Linked DNA regions of Homo sapiens: all the other regions are linked to region 1. The links come from fine-mapping of genetic effects on gene expression. A gene starts in region 1. Each other region holds a variant in brackets. All regions are shown on one strand. Distances are between the middles of the regions. Region 1 holds the start of ZFAND5 (zinc finger AN1-type containing 5). Region 2 overlaps LINC01504 (long intergenic non-protein coding RNA 1504). Region 3 has its middle 44 kb from the start of ZFAND5. Region 4 overlaps LOC105376082 (a long non-coding RNA gene).

The links. PIP is the estimated chance that this variant, and not a neighbour inherited with it, causes the effect.
Region 2: its variant is the best candidate, but not a certain one, in a credible set for the expression of ZFAND5 in whole blood (INTERVAL, PIP 0.57).
Region 3: its variant is the best candidate, but not a certain one, in a credible set for the expression of ZFAND5 in whole blood (INTERVAL, PIP 0.52).
Region 4: its variant is the best candidate, but not a certain one, in a credible set for the expression of ZFAND5 in whole blood (INTERVAL, PIP 0.53).

Annotation. Positions count from the first base shown.
Region 1 is chr9:72,362,831-72,367,984 of GRCh38, forward strand. ZFAND5 (zinc finger AN1-type containing 5) reads right to left here and starts at 2,378. Exons shown (of 7, transcript NM_001102420.3): 1 at 1,866-2,378; 2 at 640-776. RefSeq lists enhancers at 1,381-2,084, 2,085-2,789 and silencers at 1,397-2,226, 2,237-2,616.
Region 2 is chr9:72,325,098-72,330,251 of GRCh38, forward strand. LINC01504 (long intergenic non-protein coding RNA 1504) reads left to right here. Exons shown (of 5, transcript NR_110952.1): 3 at 3,567-3,624. Among named protein-coding and RNA genes, the nearest start is that of LINC01504, 22 kb to the left of the region's middle. The variant G/GATAA (reference allele first, on the strand shown) is at 3,071.
Region 3 is chr9:72,407,018-72,412,171 of GRCh38, forward strand. No RefSeq gene overlaps it. Among named protein-coding and RNA genes, the nearest start is that of ZFAND5, 44 kb to the left of the region's middle. The variant A/AT (reference allele first, on the strand shown) is at 2,584.
Region 4 is chr9:73,240,403-73,245,556 of GRCh38, forward strand. It overlaps LOC105376082 (a long non-coding RNA gene), which reads right to left. Exons shown (of 5, transcript XR_929931.2): 4 at 2,749-2,973; 5 at 1-2,027. Among named protein-coding and RNA genes, the nearest start is that of ANXA1, 91 kb to the left of the region's middle. The variant G/T (reference allele first, on the strand shown) is at 2,088.

The sequences.
Region 1 (5,154 bases):
CAAGGCTGCAATGTGACAAGCTGAGCTGGATGGAGGCTCTCACATAAAGCCTAGTCAACAGGGGCCTCTGAAATCAGCTTCTATTTATATCTCAAAGCCTGCCAACTCCTACACAACCCCAAGAACTAAGGATGCAGCGTTCATATATCTAACATAAGAAAACAAAAAAAGGGCTGCTAGTTTTTTCCTAATGTAGGAAAAACTACAGAACAATCTCAATCTAGAAGATGAAAGCATAGTCAAAGCTAAAATGGTCAAGGTTGTTGATAAAAAACTAAGCACAGTGGAGACAGTGTAAAAAAGAATCCTCATTTAGTGAGGATTTAGGGGATGAAGTGGGGGATGTGTGTTCCCATTAGGTATTGCATTCCCCTTGTATTTTAGAAAAAAATACCATTACTATTTATTGCCTTTAAAGTAATTAGCAACTTGAGCATGCACGTGTCAGCTCTATCAGGTATAGCTAGAATGCAGATTTTATAAAGTTTATGGCTTCCTCTAACTTACAGCTTAAAAAAACACCCGAGTGTAACTGAACAATTCTCCAATTCCAATTCTGAACAAAGAGCTTTTACACCTATGGAATACAGTTCTTTCAGGTGCACATGATGTGATGAGATGGCATGAATTCCCACTCACCTGGGAATGGAGACCTGAGTTCAAGTCTCTAGTCTGCCACTAAGTCAGTGACCTTGGGCAAGTCCTTACTTTCCAGATTTCAGTTCCCTCTTTGCCAAATGGAGTAGAATTGACTTTTAAAGGCTCCTTTTCAGGGCCTGGGAGATAGAAAACAGGAGACAACTACAAAGAATCCTTAATTTTTTAGGGGGGTGTGGGGAAACATTTTAACAAAAAACTTCAAAGATAAAATTGCAGTATTTTCACCAACTGAGTTCTGAAAGCCTACTCTTTAAAAAAAATCCTAAAAATAAGGAATAAAATACATTCGTTTATGTTTTTAGAAGTCTGTATCTAAATCCCAGGTTTAAGAACGGGGATGTGTGACCTATATGTTCCTTTATCTTGGTATCTCCTTAGATGCTATCCCTTAGGAGACACTCAATCAATAAAGATAATCCGACCCTTCCCCGAAAACACACCTCCACGGAGTGCGTGGAAAGCGAGCAAAAAATTTCACATTCATCAGCCTAAATGCACCAAACAAAGGAGGTGTTCCATTTCCTCCATGAAAACGGATCTCAGGATAAAAACGCAGCGACGTCGAGAAGCCCAAAAGACGACGCCGAGAACCCCCGGCCCCATGTTCCAATGGATTTTGGAACAAGTTCGGGTCCCACTGATACCCCATCCCCCTCTAAGCAAAGGCCTCACTCAATAAAGCCCAACAGGGCCCTCTCCGAAAACCACTGAGTCATGCAGAACAGCAGCTCAGCAGGCCCGGCCAGCCCTTCGCCTGCAGGCCCCACGCGGATCCCCGACCCCCGACCCCCGACCCCGAACGGCTCCTCTTAGGGGAGAGCTAGGGGGGGCTGCAACGGGCAGGGGGCGCGGCCGCCGCCTCGGCCTCTTTGTTTCTCTGGGTCGTGGTGCCCACGCCGGGCGCCGCCGCGGAGGCGAGCGGCCTAGAGGCCGGCCCCGCAGAGGCGGCACGCCGTGCATTGTTTCCCGACCGTGCTGTGGAGCGAGCCAGGGACGCCGGGAGCCAGGTCTCGGGCCACGACGACAGGATGACGCCTCCGTCTTTGTGCTTCCTGGGCTGGCGGGCGGGCTCCCCTCCCCCGGACGCCGCCATCCGCGGCCTGCTCCGGCTTCGCCATTGGCCCGCGGCGCCCCGGTCCCTTCACTCCCGCCCCCGGCCCGGCAACAAGGAGCCCGGCTCCCACCCGCAGCCCCGTATCACTCACCCTGCAGGGTCCCAAATGCGAAAGCCGGGTTCGCGCGCGAAGCCGGCACGATGAGGCCGGGCCGAGGCCTCCGGGAAGGCTGAGCCGGGCGCCCTGGTGCCGCCGCCGCGGGCCGGGAGCGGGTCGGAGCAGCAGGCGGAGGTGGCGCCGCCGCCGCCGCGGGGTCTTCCTTTGTTCCTGCAGCAGCGTCGAGCGTGGCCGGGACACGCCGGAGCTCGGGAAGTGGGAGGAGGGAAGCGAGGGGGGGCCGAGGAGGAGGTGGAGGGAGGACCGGCGGCCGCAGCGGCTAACGCTGCTCGAGGCGCTCGCCTGTCGTCGCCTCACGCCTCCACAGGCCGCAGGTTGGGCGGACGAGGAGGGCGAGCGGACCGCGCGCCGCGAGGCCTGGGGCCGTAAGGGCCCGCTGATGGCGCTCTTCGCCGCTCCTGCCACCGCCGGGGAAGCTGCGCGGCTCCCGGGAGCGAGCGAGCCCGCGTAGGAGATGCACACAGCTCCGCGTCCCGGCCGACTAACGCACTCGCCGCCCGGCGCCCGGGCTGTGAGGGAAAAGAGGGGGAGGGGGCGGGACCCGTGCGTCAGCGAAAACCCCGGCGGCGGCGGCGGCGGCGGGGAGCGCGGTGACGTCGCGGGCCCAAGGCCACGCCCCCGGTGCCCTGTCAGTAGGTCCAGGAGGCGGGGCCGAGACGGGTTGCTGTGCCTTCTCGCGGAGCCCAGCCACTGGCCTGGCAGTCGGCCCCTAGGGTGGAGCTGGGAAGAGCGAGTCCTGTGGAGGATGCGTTTCTATTTTTAACCCAATTGTCCGCCCTCAGCCTCCCTCCTTCGGATTTTCTCATTCAAACCCGTTTTTCGCCATCCTAGTTCTCACGCTTTGTCTCCAGCCCTGGGCAGACATTCCCTCCCCCAAGAATCGTAAGGATTCACCCCCAGAAAAGGAAAAGAATTGCCTTATGGCTTCGAGGTCTTTTCTGTTTATGAAACCTCCTCACTCCCCACACCCATTTTGAGCTCCGAAGTCCAGCCCGAGCGTGGCCCTGACGCAGCTGGCGGCGTGCGTTCGCTCGCCCAAGGTCACGGGTGGTTGTGCGGAGTGAGGAAACGCGCGGCCGCCCAGGGCTGCCAATGCCCCGGCGGCGCTGTTCTGAACAAACTGTTTTGGCCAGCCTGTGAAATCCCTGGAAATTGACGATTCCAGCAAAGCGTCGTGAACTGGGAAAGCACCAAATGTTCTACTCAAAAGCCGCGAAGGGACAAAACAAGCTAGACCCGAGGCCCAGATGAAGCGGGAGGAGGAGGCTTGCGAGAGGAAGTTCAAGGGGGGAGGTACTAGGCGGGCAGTTCAGGCACGAGGCACAGGTCCCCCATGGGTGAAAGGATGACTTTACCCGGAACACTGGGAACCTTTTCAGAGCACAAACAAAAAACATTTTCAACTGACCGCTCCAAGTGAATTTCAGTTCAACTCAAAATAACAAAATTACTAAGTCGGAAAGGACTTCTGAAATTTTCTAGTAAACAACGGTCTAACGAATACATAGAAATGATGTTTAGGGTTTATATTAGCCACATATAGAATGGAGAAGAGGTCCCTTCAGTGTTTCTCAAAGTTGGTAATCAGAAAAAAAATCACCTGGGGTGATTAAAGATTCCTACGCATCTCCCCTGGATATGGTTTTGGTTGTTCCGGGGTGGGAGCGGGGGTGGGGGGGGGCCCATATTGCGCTTCAGGTGGTCCTTATTTATAATCTGTATTTGGGGGAATGCTATACTGATAGCTTGAGCCACCACTGCCAAATCAAACAGTTCTCCGCCACAGTTAGCAAAGTACCTGGAGCATAACAACCTTTTGTTTTGTTTTTTAACAAATTCGGGTTTATTACTGTGATCAATTAATGTATTAGAGATTTAAGTAGTTTGGGTCACTGGTCCCACGACCACTGCAATTTATTTCCTTAAATTAGCAGATGAATTAGTAAAAAAAAAAAAAAAATAGCAGCTACCATTTACAGGCCATTTTCAGTGCCAACTATTTTCCATTTAGGGTCTCATTTTATCCTCACAGCAATTCACTGAGATAGGTACTATTATCATGTCCCTTTCTACAGATAAAGAAACAATGACTAAAAAGGCTTGCCCAGGGCACTGAAGGGCAGGGAGGCAATGGAGGTGATTATTATTGAGAACAAAAATAACTTGAATTTTAACTTGAATTTTTTTCTTTCTCTAGAATTGGAGTTATAGTGAGTGAAACAAGATAATTCCTGAAGAAGCATACTTTAAAAAAAGTCTAAGGGTAATGAGGCAAGCTCATTATTGAATAGTGTATTCCATAATATTATGTCACCTTCTGATAATTCATCTTCTCTATCACCCATTTATAATTTTCTCTGAGACTGTTTCAATCAAGAATGTTGCAGGTATTGGACCTAAACATACCAAGATTCCTTTTTAGCAGCTATTTTCTAGTGGTTCTCAAAATGTGGTCTCCAGACTACCTGGGAACTTATTAGAAATACAGATTCTCAGGCCCCAGCACCAAACCTGTGGAGTCACAAACTGGGGGTTAGCACAGCCGTCTGTGGCTTAATAAGTCCTCCAGGTGATTCTGATGCATACACAAGTTTGAAAACTATTGACTTAACCCTACCATGGCATCAGGTGACCCCTCTTTTTTTCAGATGGCTCACACCATGTGAAAGGGAAAAGTTTAAAAAAAAAAAGTCTCATATTACTGGTGTAACAGATTAAGGGATATACTTCTAAGAAGGTTTTTGTTTTATTTTTGTTTTCTTATATTTTAAATTTTCACTTGCACTCCAAAGACAAACTGAATTGCTAAACACAGAATATATAAGAGAATGCTTCTAATATAACATGCCAAAGGGCTTTGCTCTATAGTCATTAGGGAAGGTCAACTTTGGCCTGAAACCAACCTCTGTAAAAAAGATAATGAGTAGCCAGTCGTGGTGGCTCACACCTGTAATCCCAGCACTTTGGGAGGCCATGGGGGGTGGATCATGAGATCAAGAGACTGAAACCGTCCTGACCAACATGGTGAAACCCTGTCTCTACTAAAAAATATACAAAAATTAGCTGGGCATGTTGGTGCGTGCCTGTAGTCCCAGCTACTCGGGAGACTGAGGCAGGAGAATCACTTGAACCCAGGAGACAGAGGTTGCAGTGAGCAGAGATTATGCCACTGCACTCTAGCCTGGTGACAAAATGAGATTCCGTCTCAAAAACAAAACAAACAAACAAACAAAAAAACAGATAATGAGCAAAGTTGGTCGTG
Region 2 (5,154 bases), 38 kb before region 1:
AACCTCCATTCTATACTGCTTTCAAAGATCCAGCCCTTCCCTCAAATCACGTTTTCTTACTTAGACTAGGGTTTGATTCATGTTTACTCACTGGGAATAAAGGTCAGTTAAACAGAATGAGAGAACAGGAAAGTCTTTCAAAATGATGCTTCTGTCTACTTACATTGTCTGTTACTTTAACAACTTAGGGATTCTTGGAGCAAGTAAAGAACCAAATATAAAGACTGCTTTGTGGGAGGTAGCTTGGATCCTTCATCATTTTTTTTCCCCCCATAACTCCTGAGTTCCACTGGAGACACAGATTCTCTGGGGGTAAGATTAGCGGATTCGTATTTTAACAGACCTCTGGCGGTTCTTCTCTATGCTAAAGTTTGAGAACACTGCTTTCAGCATTTCTAATCTCATCTCAAATTCATCAGGGAGCTGTTTCCTCCTTCATGAAAAAATCTTTGACTTAATGATAGCTACCCAGGCCTACCTTATTAGCTAAAGGGGGCATAGAGACTTAACTCTCAGTGGTTGACAATTATTGTAAAGTAATTCTTGCCGTTATTTTTCTCCCCTAAGGGTAAACTTAGCAGCAAATGGCATACTAGTAACTTAACCAATTGAAAGGGTAACAGCAAAACTAACAACCAAGTTTGCTTTTGATAGGTAGAATTGGCTGCCTATAAGGTGTGACATGAAAGTTGAAGGAAGGCTCACTTTTGCAAATATCTTTCCCACTGTTCTGCCAGGGGGAAGCAATTTTTTGGTTTGGGTTCCCCTAAATTCCAAATATGTTACCTAGGAGGAGTAATAAGTTATACATTAAACTGTTATGATTCAATCACAGCTTTAAAAAGATCGCAAAATTAGCTCTCAGGTTACTTAGCAAATAACCAATTAAGGTCTTGAGAGGATAATATTTGGGATGGGAAAATTTAGGTGGGTAGAAAAAGGCTGAGCAAAGTCAAGAATGTAGGCTGTTACCAAAGGCCAAATGGCAATACTGGACCAGCATATCTTCTTCTGCTATTTCCTTTATGCCCCTGAGGGTTCTTCTGAAGCAGGAGTTGGCAAACTTTTTCTTTTCTTTTTCTTTTGAGACAGAGTCTCACTCTGTTACCCAGGCTGCAGTGCAGTGGCATGATCTCAGCTCACTGCAACCTCCACCTCTGGGACTCAAGCGATCCTCCCGCCTTAGCCACCCGAGTAGCTGGGACCACAGGTGCACACCACCACACCCAGCTAATTTTTTTGTATTCTTGGTAGAGACAAGGTTTCACTATGTTGCCTAGGCTGGTCTCAAACTTGTGAGCTCAAGCGATCCGCCTGCCTTGGCCTCGCAAAGTTCTGGGATTACAGGTGTGAGCCACCACACCTGGCCGCATACTTTTTCTATAAAGAACCAGATAGAGGCTGGGCATGGTGGCTCACGCCTGTAATCCCAACACTTTTGGAGGCTGAGTCGGGCAGATGACCTGAGGTCAGGAGTTCAAAACCAGCCTTGACCAATATGGTGAAACCCTGTCTCTACTAAAAATACAAAAATTGGCTGGGCATTGTAGCATCTGCCTGTAATCCCAGCTACTGGGGAAACTGAGGCAGGAGACTCGCTTGAACCTGGGAGGCAGAGGTTGCAGTGAGCTGAGACTGCACCATTACACTCCAGACTGGGCAACAAGAGGGAAACTCCATCAAAAAAAAAAAAAAAACCAGACAGAAAATATTTTAGGCTCTTCAGTCATGTGGTCTCTGTCGCAACTGCTCAACTCTGCCATTGTAGTGTGAAAGCAGCCATGGACAATATGTAAACAAAACAGTGTGGCTGTGCTTAGTTATGAATCCTAATATTTGAATTTAATATAATTTTCATGTTATAAATTTTTAATTATCTTGTTTTTTCTCAACCATTTAAAATATGAAAATTATTCTTAGTTCAGGGCACATATAAAAACAGATGGTAGGCTGGATGGGCCAGTTTATTGATCCCTGTTCCAAAGCAAAATCAATTTGCTGTTTTCAATACATACTCCATGCTATCCTACTTCTTTACATTTGCTTTCATTATTCCTTCCACTTACGTAGAAGGAGCCCTACACACCCCAACCTACATGCCCATATGTACCCATCACCTAGTTCAATTATTAGCTTATTTTCAAAGTAAACTCTCATCCTCTAAGTGCCTTCATCTATACTTCTCTGATGGCCTTGATCATGGCAGATTTGTATTACTTTGTGGTCTGTGATTTTTTTTTAAATTTTATTTGTTTACGTATTTATTTATTTTTGAGATGGAGTCTTGCTCTGTTGCCCAGGCTGGAGTACAGTGGCACGATCTCTGCTTACTGTAACCTCCGCCTCACGAGTTCAAGTGATTCTCCTGCCTCAGCCTCCCGAGTAGCTGGGACTACAGGCACACACCACCGCGCCCAGCTAATTTTTGTATTTTTAGTAGAGATGGAGTTTCACTGCGTTGTCCAGGCTGGTCTCAAACTCCTGAACTCATGATCCTCCCGCCTTGGCCTCCCAAAGTGCTAGGATTACAGGCATGAGCCACTGTGCCCAGCCAGGATGTTTTATTTTTATATCCTCCATGGCACCGAGCCTAACAGAGTTAGCAAAGTGTCCTAAGTCAAGGAAGAACCATCAGCATTTAGGAAACAGCATAAAGATTGTACCCGGCCAAAAGTGGAATGAAAGTAGTTAAAAGAGAAGTGAAAACGTTTCTGAACACCTATAGTGGTTTGAATGACAGCCTCCCAAAAGATAGGTCCTTGTTCTAAAACCTGAACCCGGACAGGCGTAGTGGCTCACGCCTGTAATCCCAGCACTTTCAGAGGCCAAGGCAGGTGGATCACGAAGTCGGGAGTTCAAGACCAGCCTGGCCAACGTAGTGAAACCCCATCTCTGCTAAAAATACAAAAATTAGCTGGGCATGGTGGCGTATGCCTGTAGTCCCAGCTACTCGGGAGGCTGAGGCAGGAGAATCACTTGAACCTGGGAGGCGGAGATTGTGGTGAGCCAAGATCATGCCACTGCACTCCAGCCTGGGCAACAGAGTAAGACTCCACTCAGATAATAGACA[G/GATAA]ATAAATAAATAAATAAATAAATAAAACCTGGACCCTGTGAATGTGACCTTATTTGGAGAAAGGGTCTTTGCAGATGTAAGTAAGTGAAGGATCTTAAGATGAGATCATCCTGGACTACACCCAATGATAAGTGTCCTTAAAGAGACAGAAGAGAAGACACACAGAGAACGCCATGTGAAAATGGAGGCAGAGATTGGAGGGATATAGGCACCTGGAATGCAGAGGGAGTGAATTCCTGCCAACACATAAATTTCAGACTTCTGGGCCCCAGATTGTGAAGAATAAATTTCTATTGTTTTAAGCCACTCAGTTTGTGGACATTTGTTACAGAAGCCCTAGGAAGCTAATACAACCCTCACCACCTGCTTTCCCAAGTTGTGTTAACAAATATCTAATATTTATTTAGCACTTGTTATATTCAGCTTTAAATAGATAATTACATTAAACTTTCACAGCAATCTTATAAAATAGGCATTATTATTATTCCTTGTACAGATGAAGAAACTGACATCTGGAGAAGTTGAAGTAATTTGCACAAAGATTCACTTGGCTAGTAAGTCATGAAACCAGAATTGAACCCAAGCAATCTGATTCCAATTCTCTTCTCTTTTTTAAAAAAAATTTATATATATACATTTGTTATTATACTTTAAGTTCCAGGGTACACGTGCACAACGTGCAGGTTTGTTACATATGTATACATGTGCCATGTTGGTGTGCTGCACCCATCAACTCGTCATTTACCTTAGGTATTCCTCCTAATGCCATCCCTCCCCCTCCCCCCACCCCATGACAGGCCCCGGTGTGTGATGTTCCCCACCCTGTGTCCAAGTGTTCTCATTGTTCAATTCCCACCTATGAATGAGAACACGTGGTGTTTGGTTTTCTGTCCTTGAGATAGTTTGCTCAGAATGATGGTTTCCAGCTTCATCCATGTCCCTACAAAGGACATGAACTCATCCTTTTTTATGGCTACATACTATTCCATGGTGTATATGTGCCACATTTGCTTAATCCAGTCTACCATTGATGGCCAGTCCTCTTCTCTTAATCACTGTTACCTGTTAGGTTCTTAATCATTCTCCTTACATTTCACATACCTTAACAGAGAGGAAGAAATGTTGGTTAATGACTTCCTTCTTTGGGGAATGATATTTCCTAAACTGGATTTCTGCTCTCCCAGCTACTCATTCTTGGTGAACAAGCATAGAATAGTCTACTGCTCAGGTCAGGACAACAGAATCTCTCTCTGGGTCTCCTGCCCTTCATCCTTCTCTGATTCCTAAGGTGGGGGAGCTTGGAAGCTTTATGTTAGCCTTTAAAGAGTATGGCCTTCATGAAAGTCTGTTCCCCTGAGCAGCTCTATTTGAATGCATTTAATAACTGTAGCTTCTAGTTTCCAATAAGGAAAATAAATAAGAGGAAACACAACTGCAGGCAGCACTGGGATGATGTCAACAATGGAAATATCAGCATGGTTCCTGGAAAAGTCATGGAGAGCAAAGTGCTCAAGAGCCATTGAAATCCTTTCATAGGAATAGGTTCTGAGGACCAAATGTTGTTAGAGTCTTCAGGGAAGCAAGATAGCACAGTGGTTAAGAGCATGAGTGCACTTGGGTCTAGGTTTGAATATCCTGGCATTATCACTTACTAGCTCTGTGACTGAGCAAATAACCTTGAGTCTCAGTTTTCTCATCTTCAAAGTGGGGAATAAAAATATTACCTACTTCATAGGTAATATTTATGTAGAACACTTGCACACGTAAGCCCTCAATATTATCAAAGTGTTAGCTGTTAAATTGTGTATGAAAGTCTTGAATGAAGGTTTTCACTCACCGCCTTTTCTCTCACCACCACCCTTACTCCTTTCCCTTTTACTAAATATAATTTTGCCACTTTGGCTGGGCGCGGTGGCTCAACGCCTGTAATCCCAGCACTTTGGGAGGCCGAGGCGGGCAGATCACTTGAGGTCAGGAGTTTTGAGACCTCCTGAAACCTCATCTCTACTAAAAATACAAAAAATTAGCCGGGTGTGGTGGCGCATGCTCATAATCCCAGCTACCAGGGGGCTGAGGCAGGAGAA
Region 3 (5,154 bases), 44 kb after region 1:
TTTAACTGAGCCTGTCTGCACTTGATTTAAGTAAGAAGGTAGGGATGGGAGAGGGGAAATTAACAGGGTATGATTTACAAAGCATGTTTATAGATCTTACAAATTGGCTTCACTAAAGGAAGGAGTTAATACATGTCAATAAATGAGTACAACTACTATAATATGCATAATGGCGTTTGCTAAATAGCAACTCTTCTTCCTGGAAAATTTCCTTTACCTCATACAGATGAATCATTTACTTCCAGAAAATAGTACACTTACTGTAGGCTTAGTTCAATCCTAGTGATTAAATTCGGCTAGCCAAGTCAGGTCAGATTTCATGGTAACATGACAAAAGGGAGAATAAAACTCTAAAAGGACATTGAAAATGTCCTAAACACCATATCCAATGGCTTTTCACAGTCTTCATCCTTCTAAGCTTCAGAGCACCACTTGACAGCAATAACCTTCTCTTTAACATTTTCTTCTCCATTGCCTTCCAGTGATGTGATGTCTGAGGTCTTTTCTTTTCACTCTGACTTGTCCTGACAGGGAAGCAGTATTGATTGAAGAACAAAGGTTTGTGGGTTGTAGTGAGAACTTGGGGTAATAGTTTCTGTAAAGTGTGTAGTAGGTTCTCAATCAATTATAGCTATTAGCTTTTGTTATTACCTTTGACTGAATATTTTCCTTCACCCAAGCCTTACATTTACGTTCTCTGTTCTTCATATACTACAGAATTGTATTTACTTCTTTTGTTTCAAATGTTACCCCTTTATTAATAAACAGCTGCACAATGTCACATCTGAACCTGTCTGTGAATGCATGGTGTAAGTATTTTTATTGTTTTTTTTTTAAGGCCTGGGCAGTGTATGACAGGCAGAAGCTTCTTTCTTCCAAATCTGTGTGCGTCTAAGAGACTCGATGTCACTCCACCTCCCCATTTTTGCCAAGTGCAGCATCACAGATGTGTGTCTGGGTCTTCCTCCAGTCCTTCAGCATTACACTCCCCAGAGCTCTATGAATACAATGGAGGCTGGGATGCCAATACATTCCAGCATGATCTTAGTTTGGTTTCATGTGGGACTTCTAGTGTACTACGACATTCTGATGATGGGTTCAAGGTAACTTTCTATGACTGGCACAAAAATGAGAGAAATTGTGTTATAGCTTTAGCTGTGGGGCTTTGGGCAGGTCATGTCACCTCTCTGGCTTAGTTCCTTTATTTGTAGGATGAGTGATTTAGACTTGATCTCAACACTTTCTCGTGCTAGGATGCTGAGTTTCTTGAAGACAATGGGCACGTAGAGGATAGCAAAGCACATGATATTCTTGAAGCTTTCAAATGAAACAGTGTTGTTCAAGGCAGGATAATGGGAATAGATTGCATTCCCAAAAATGTTCACATTAGGGATTTTTTTTTTTTTTTTTTTTTTTGAGACAGAGTCTTGCTTTGTCCCCCAGGCTGGAGTGCAGTGGTGCAAGCTCCATCTCCCAGGTTCACGCCATTCTCCTGCCTCAGCCTCCCAAATAGCTGGGACTACAGGCGCCCGCCACCATGCCTGGCTAAATTTTTTTGTATTTTTAGGAGAGACGGGGTTTCACCGTGCTAGCCAGGATGGTCTCAATCTCCTGACCTTGTGATCCACCCGCCTCGGCCTCCCAAAGTGCTGGGATTACAGGCGTAAGCCACCACACCCAGCCGGGGTAATTTCAATAGCTATTACGACCACAGGATTGCCATCCCGACAAGCCTCATATACTTGTTACTATTTTTATCACTGAAATGATAATTTATTGGTCATTTTAATCATAAAAGTCCTGCTGATTTTTAGTTTTGTAGATTACATAATGAAAAAAATCTTCTTTATTTATTTAGGCGCCCAGTACATGTTCATTGTAAAAATTTCAAAGAATAGAGAAAATTTTTTTAAAGGCAGTAAAAATCATCCCCAAATTCTGGCCACCTGGGAGTAATAATTTATAAAAATTTGGTTAGTGTTCTAATGTATGTGACCTTACATAAATTAGAACAAACTATTAATGCTGTCTTGTAACCTGCTTTCTTTCTTTGTTTTTTGTTTTTGTTTTTGTTTTTGTTTTTTTGAGATGGAGTCTCACTCTGTCGCCCAGGCTAGAGTGCAGTGACGTGATCTCGGCTCACTGCAACCTCTGCCTCCCAGGTTCAAGAGGTTCTTCTGCCTCAGCCTCCTGAGTAGCTGGGATTACAGGCGTGTGCCACCATGCCTGGCTAATTTTTTGTATTTTTAGTAGAGACGGGGTTTTGCCATGTTGGCCAGGCGGGTCTCAAACTCCTGACCTCAGGTGATCTGCTTGCCTTGGCCTCCCAAAGTGCTGTGCATTTGGCCTATAACCTGCTTTCTGAAAAAGTTTTTGGTATATTGTAGATATCTTTCTTCAGTAGTGGCCATTGATTTAGAATCATCTTTTGTAATAGCCATATTCCATTGTCTGGTGGATCCATAATATATACCATTATATATTTATTTATTCCTTTCATGATGGATATTTAAGTTATTTCTAATTTTCCACTATTATAGATAGAACTGTGATGAACATCAAGTCATATCAAAGCTTACAAAC[A/AT]TATTGAAACACGCTTATTTTGAAATAAGAGCAGAGTTATTTTGTTAGGCAATTAAGAGGCAGTCAGTAAATATACTTTGATAATGATTGTCCCTGCGATGCCCTAATTCCTGATTTGCAATAGATTAATGCACTGTCACCATTATTTTCCAAAAGGTTAGAAACTTACACTTAATCACTGTAACTAAAAATTAATTTTATGCTATTAGAAATGATAAGGTAATACAAAGTATCCTTTCCCCAGCTGAAACTATTATAGTTATTTCTAATTCAGCCAGCCCTTATGAAAATAATAAAACATGTATTGGCTTCTTATCTCATTTGAATATGAAGGTTTATTGTCATTCATGTTAAATGTTGTTTTTTTTTTTGTTTTGCTTGAGTTAATAATACCTCAGAGTTGGACTAACACCATCTCCTTTTGTTAATCATCGACTGCCAAAAATTCAAAATCCCAAGCAGATTGAAGGAACAGTATAAAGTAATTTTCAGAGGTTTATTTTGGGAATGAATTTACAGAATATTTGCTTTTTTATCCTAGTACCTCATACAGTGCCTCGGACATAGTGGGCACTCAATAAATATTTATTGAAGAATGAATGAATGAAGCACATTCAATTTGTGACTTAAATAATGGTGAATATCTGAACCAATGGGGCCAACTATTTCTACAACTAAAATAATCCATTGGGGTTACCACAGAATTGACTTTCTACACTTAGAAATAAGGTGAATGTTTTCCACTAAACATAACTCACCAGTTTTATCATTCTTAATATTCATTGTTTATAGAGGGAGTTGGAAAACTGTCTCCTGCGGGCAAAGTCCAGCCTGCTGCCTATTTAGTACAACATGTGTGCTAAGAATAATTTTAAAAATATTTTTAAATGGTTGAAAACAATCAAGAGAAGAATAATATTTCATGGCAGGTAAGAATTATATAAAATGTAAATTTACTGTCTGTAGAGAAAATTTCACTGGAATCCTACCATGTTCATTCTTTCATGTATTGATGAAATTTCATGTTTTATGGTTGAGTTACAACAGTGGCATTGAGTAGTGACCCACAAAGCCAAAAATATTTACTGTCTGGCCTTTTACAAAAAAATTTTTGCCAACTCCTAGTTTTGACCCAAAACTGTTTCTTGGGGACAGGGATGCATTTTGAGTTACCAGCATTATCGAATGCTAGAGTGACAGCAACCTTGGCAAAGGCAAGTCAAGGCAGTATGTCTGTTTTGTTAACTACTAGAAAATCGTAGTGGTAGTATATTCTCTTTTCTTTTTTATCATCTCTGATTGAGGAGACCAGTCTCTTTTTTTGAGATGGAGTTTCACTATTTTTGCCCCTGCTGGAGTGCAATGGTGGGATCTTGGCTCGCTGCAACTTCTGCCTCCTGGGTTCAAGTGATTCTCCTGCCTCAGCCTCCCAGGTAGCTGGGATTACAGGTTCACGTCACCACACGAGGCTAATTTTGTATTTTTAGTAGAGATGAGGTTTCACCATGTCAGACAGGCTGGTCTCAGATTCCTGACCTCAGGTGATCCGCCCACCTTGGCCTCCCAAAGTGCTGGGATTACAGGCATGAGCCACTGTGCCCAGTCTGAGAAGACCAATCTTATGCAAACCTCTTACTGGGCCCAGCAATTCAACTGTGACCCCTCTGGCCTCTCTGGCTTCCCTCCAGAACCCTGCCTGCCCCATGGTTGTATAGGCTGGGGACACTAATGACTCCCCCAAAAGCCTGTCAGGATTTTAAAAATTGGGCTCTTCGGAACTTCTGTGGAAAATTGAAGAGGTTTGTCTATATCCTAAATGTATGAAATTATTGAATTCTTACATGAATTTTAGTTTGAGATTTTAATTTTAATTAGTTTCTTCTACAGTGGAGATACTCATTTGCACCAAGTTCCTGAGAGTAACTAAAGATCACGTGAAGAAATAAACAGTTCAATTATTGTTATTCTTTCACAAGATCGCTATAACACTGATTATAAAAGAGAGAGATGTTCTTACAGACACATGCTCTTTATTTCTGACTACCTAACAATTGTTTTTAATAATGGCCATTTCAAGCTGTCCCAGTTGTAGCATGGGTCATTTGCTATACGTATTGTATTAGGATTCTCCAGAGAAACAGAACCACACACATACACACACACGTGTGTTTGTGTGTAAATATATGTAGACATATGTAAAAATATGTAAATATATATAATTTAAATTATAGAAATTACATATATATTTCTGTATGTGCATATATATGTATGTGTAAATATATGCATGTAATTTCTATAATTTAAATTATATATATTTTTAGTTTTCATTACAGTTTTCTAAAAAAATTGGCTGATGAGATTGTGGGCACTGGCCACTGTGAAGTGTGCAGGGCAGGCTGGAAATTCCAGCAGGAGTTGATGTAGTTTTGTATCCAAAGGCAGTCTGGAGGCAGAATTCTCTCTTCTTCAGGTGACCTCAATCTTTTCTTTCAAGGCCTTCAACTGATTAGATGATGCCACACACATTATGGAGGGAAATCTGCTTTACTCAAAGTCTACCAATTTAAATGT
Region 4 (5,154 bases), 880 kb after region 1:
CCAACCAACCAACCAAAAAAAAAAAAAAACCAAAAACCACAAGTCACTACAATGAATACAGGTCATCATTACATAGGCATTCCTAACATTAACAAAAGAAGACTCAACATCAAAAGACTGTCCTTCCAGGAACTTGTCAAGCATGAACTAAGACTGAATAAGGGTCTTGCAGCAGGAGCCATATATCCAGGCATAGAGAGATGGTGTAAGGCCAGAAGAGAAGGACCCAAAACAGTTGCCAGGGAAGATTCAGATAAAGGTTTCTAGTTACACTACTTAAAAATTACCATCAATTTTTAGTAAAAAGAGGTTAAATGAGTTACAAAAAATCCTTACTTCCTATAGTATTGTCTTTAGCTATGTATCACAAAGTATATACAGTTAAAAAACAAGAAACCAAATGAGGACCCAGCTCACAAGAGTCATTACAGGTCATGGCAATTTAAATTAAGCTGGTCTTAAATAGTTTTGAATGTTGCGAAAAGAGTTTTTCTCTGGTTTTGCTCTGAGGCTTTGCATTTTTAAAAGAGCATTGAACAAAGTTACAACTAAGCGATATGTTAGTACAAAGAGAAAAATTGCAAAGGCTACAAATACACACACACAAATTTTCAATATGCTATGATGAATATAACATAATATAATGCCTACCATTAATTTTGCAATAAGGTCAAGGCAATGATGTTATCAGCAATGAACGAAAGCAGAGTGATTCTTGACACAGTCAGAATTAAGCATTAATAATGTTTCCTATTTGTGTCGTAATGGGGTGTGATTTGCCTCCGACAGCACCTTTTATTATCAGTACAGCCAGGCATCTATGTTTTCCATCTGAGGTGGTCATTGTTCTAATTATTCCCACATGCTTACCATCCTCAATACATGCGAAATAATACCAGTAATGCATTTTTAAAAAGAAGCAATATGCTTAAATATATTATAGATACTCTGTCATCCTGGATTGCTTTTTACTCTTTAGACTGTAGAAAGCTGCGTGGCTATTTTACGTTGATAGGCATTTGTATTGATTGGAGGAGTAAAAAGAAAGTACTCATTACAGAGCTGCTAACAGTGTAATTATAGAGTGGCACCCACGCTGGGGTGTGTTAGGAATCACGTTCCTGTTTTAACATCATGTAGAGTGTAACACCGGTAGCTTAGTGGAATATGCCCTTTGTACTTATAATTGCTTGCAATTAGTCCAGGGTAGTAGGTATCTTTTTATCTCCTACCTATCAGAATTCTGATGTTGGGATATTGGTCATCGGATTTACTTGCAATACTTAAAACTGTCGAAATTCATACAATAAAATTTATTTCTTTTTAGACTTTAGCTTAATGGTTAGAGGCCTCAATTTCAATCTAGGTTCTGTCACTTACCAGCTCTGTGAGCTTGGGGAAATTTCTTCATCTTTCCAACCCTCGGTTTTCTTATCTGAAATGTGGGGTTACTAATGCCACCCCTGGAAGATTTATGAAAAGAATAAATTATGGAGGCAGAGTACTATGCGTGCGAAAAAACAGCAGCTGGAACAATGTTGTCATGGTTATGGCACATGAATCAGTTGATCCAGAATCTAAATTATTTTTAGGATAACGTTACGTTTTCAGTAGTGACCTAGCATCCTACCAATATGTTTCCTGTAATATTAACAGAAATTGGCACGTTCAGTTAGTATCTAATTGTCTTAAAGATGTTTAAAAATTCCATAGACTGGGCTCACACTCTTAAAGTTTCTTGAAGCCTTTAAGAACGGTTCTTTCAACCGTTCGGCTGAACTTCCTTTTCCCTGTGGTTGGGTTTCCTATTCATTTGTCAAATTGCTTGAGTTTCATGCTGCTAAAAGCAAATTTACATGCAGATCCAGCACAACTTGAGGTTCTTGGCCAGTCTACAACTGACCAGTTCACAGCCTTCCTCTATGGAAATGCAGAAGGTAAAAAAGGGAGCAATTTTCCTCTGAGTGAAATCCTCCAGGCCTCACATGCCTGTATTTTATCTCCGACTTCTTACAGAAATTCTGGTTCTGGAATTAAAGCAGAGGCTTTTTAACCATCAATAACACTAATATTTTCTCCCTTAAAGT[G/T]TCTGTTTGACAGAGTTTTATGGTCCTAACAAAGGTATCAGATTTCTCGGCTGGAGTGCACAGAGTTTAGTGGACAATGACAAACTCTAGAGAAGCAGTTAGGTCTAGCTCCTAATTCTAGTTCTGTTACTCCTTCGCTGTGGGAGCGGCAGCCAGTTACTTAGATTCCCAGAGCTTCAGTTTTTTCCATTCATGCAGTGATTGTAATCACAGCTCCTTCTTGGGTGTTTTGGGTGAAAAGTAAAAGAGAAAATACATAAAAAGAAACCTGTAGAATCTCTTCCATTTTTCCTGTGATATTTCTTTTTGTATTCCAATGATAAGGAAATCCCCTAAACTTATTTTCCCCTGCTGTAGAGTACAGACGGCACCTGCGAAGCTATAAGATGTGTGTCCAATTAAAAACATTTCAGCTCTTTTGCTTACAATATCAGAGTTAATAAACTTATAGCTAGAGAATGGACCATATACTCTACTCTAATACAATGCTTATCTCTGTATATGGAAAGATTGAAACATATTAGTGACAAAAGCTGAAATTTTAAAACGTTTTCCTTTACTCACTTATACCATGCATTATTTAACTGATGTAGGGCAAAGTCATTTAAATTTTGTCCTTTAGACAGAATTCATCTGTCCCTTCATGTGCAAAATAGTTTACCTTAATTTCCCATAGGTAGAAGGTTTGAAGTTTCTCCTGTGAATTCTGGCTTCCCAAATTATACTTGCACAACCAGTAAACAGGACAGAGCCATGCGGTAAGAGGGCAGCACTCGCTTCACAGAGCCTACTAATGTCTCAGAGAGAGGAGACCTCAGTCAGGATATTGCTGAGGTTTTGAAGTCTGGCTTCAGACAGGTCTGTCAATGCAGGGACTTCATTAGGGCTGGAGAAAAATAATGAAATAAAGGTTTTGGAGTATTGGCTAAAGCAAGGTGTTTTGAGGCAAGATCTTCAAAGAGCCTTGGGGTGTAAACTGGCATGTGATGATTTCTACTGAAAAGCTGATGAATTAGAAAGTTCTCAGAATAAAAAGTAAAGTCATTTGTAACTTTTATCTTCCTGAGCAAGAGTCCCTTGAAATAATCACGTTCTCTTTAAAAAGACAGTGGAATAGTAAATGTTAATGTAGATACTCATCAGACTGGTAAAATTAACACCTTTTTTGGGGGGATGATAAAAAAGGGGTCCTCTTAAATATTGGAAATGTGAAGTGTTACAGTTTTTAAGTAATCTAATATCCTCTTTTAGACATAAAAGGTTATATATTTATACATTGTTTATGGTAGCAAAACTTGAAAGCAAAATGAGTGCCCATCAATAGGAAGATACATTATGGTATACTCAAACCATAGAATTTTACAGCTATTACAAATAAGCTTTATTGAGAGAATTTGCATGAAGTACTGTTGCGATAGAGATGTGTAATATGACTTCATTTTTTATAAAATAAAAAATGTGTTTCTATGTGTGTGGATGTATGTGTATGTGTGGAATGTATATTGTGAACAGCAAAATGCATTGCACAATTTTGATTTTATTATTCAGGCTATTGCAATAGGGAGAATGTTCATTAATGAAGGACATCTTGAAAAAATAACAAAAAAAGAACAGAAAAAAAGGGAGTACTAGTTTTATAAAAAGAAAAACAATAAAGTCATAAAAGGTGAAAGAGAGATTTCTAAGTCCTGAGGAAGGACTTAGAAAAAAAAAGTGGGTCTTAGAAAAAAAAAAGTGGGTCTTAGAAAAAAAGGACTTAGAAAAAAAAGTGGGTCTTTTTTCATAATATGGGAGGGGGCAGGTAAGATGGCTCTTTGAGGTTACAAAAGGGTTCTGGGGTGTTTCACACACCATTGCTTTGTGAGATCACAGAACTCTGAGTTCTGCATTGTACATATGTCTATATGAATTTGTATGTATAACGTGTATTCATGTGTAATTGTATATATACGTGTATATACACTAAGATAATAGGTGAGTACTATGGGGGTTCAAGAGCAGAGATCAAGCAAAAAAGGAAAAATCTCTGCCTTATAAAACAACAAGTAACATGATCATATTACTCATTTACATATAATTTAGACATAGATCAATCAATTTATTCATGTATATAAGAACATTTGGATAATAGTAATAGAAATAACATTAAGTTTAATAGCACATATTTTTCTGAGCATAAAATGAACGCATAGAACAACTAGATAGTATTCAAAGCATCTGCAGGTTTAGCTGTCTTTCTACGGCAACTTTACACAGACAGACATTCTTATTTTTCCGTCAAGAAAAATTGTGTCCATTTCCATTGTGTTCTCAGATTCACAATTAGAACAGTGTCATATTTAAAATAATTTTTTAGTTTGATATTACAAAAATTCTATAAGCATAGAATTGCTTTAATTGAGTAAAATACATGGGTAATACTTTGCCAAGTATTCACATGTTCAGTAGCCTTTGTAATCCTTAACACGTGACTTTATTACTTCCAAGAAAAATTGTCTGGGGGCTCAATAAGTTCAAGAAAGGAATGCTCCTGTGATATTAGAGAGGTTTGGTAACAAAGATCTAATTAGGAACAATCACTTCTCCACATCCCTATCATTAACATATACCATTGCATTTTTTAAACTAAAACTGAATGAGCTTAAAAATATAATAATCCATGCCTTAAGATTACAAATCTTACCAGAACAATAAGTGAGCAATTTCCAAGTAAATGAAGTACTGCCTCCCCTGTGGTTTAATTGTGTTTTGTGTCCTCTTATTGTCCTTCTGATGACATTTTCCCACCTTACTCAAGAGCTCTACCTATAGTTAGGGCAGCTTTGGGAACAGACTCTATTCATTTCCCAGTTAAAAAGATGAACAAGAAGAAAAAGCACTAGAACAAGGCTCTTGTCCTCTGAATGTGTACTCCAAATGATGTTGGAACAAGAGGCAGATGTAAAAAGAGGATAGCTTACAATGTGAAATCCTTCTTGACATAAGTGAGATTTCTGAAGCAAAATTAATTTTCAATAAAAATTAAAATAAAATATTTTCTAATAATGAATATGCACTGAAGAATCTA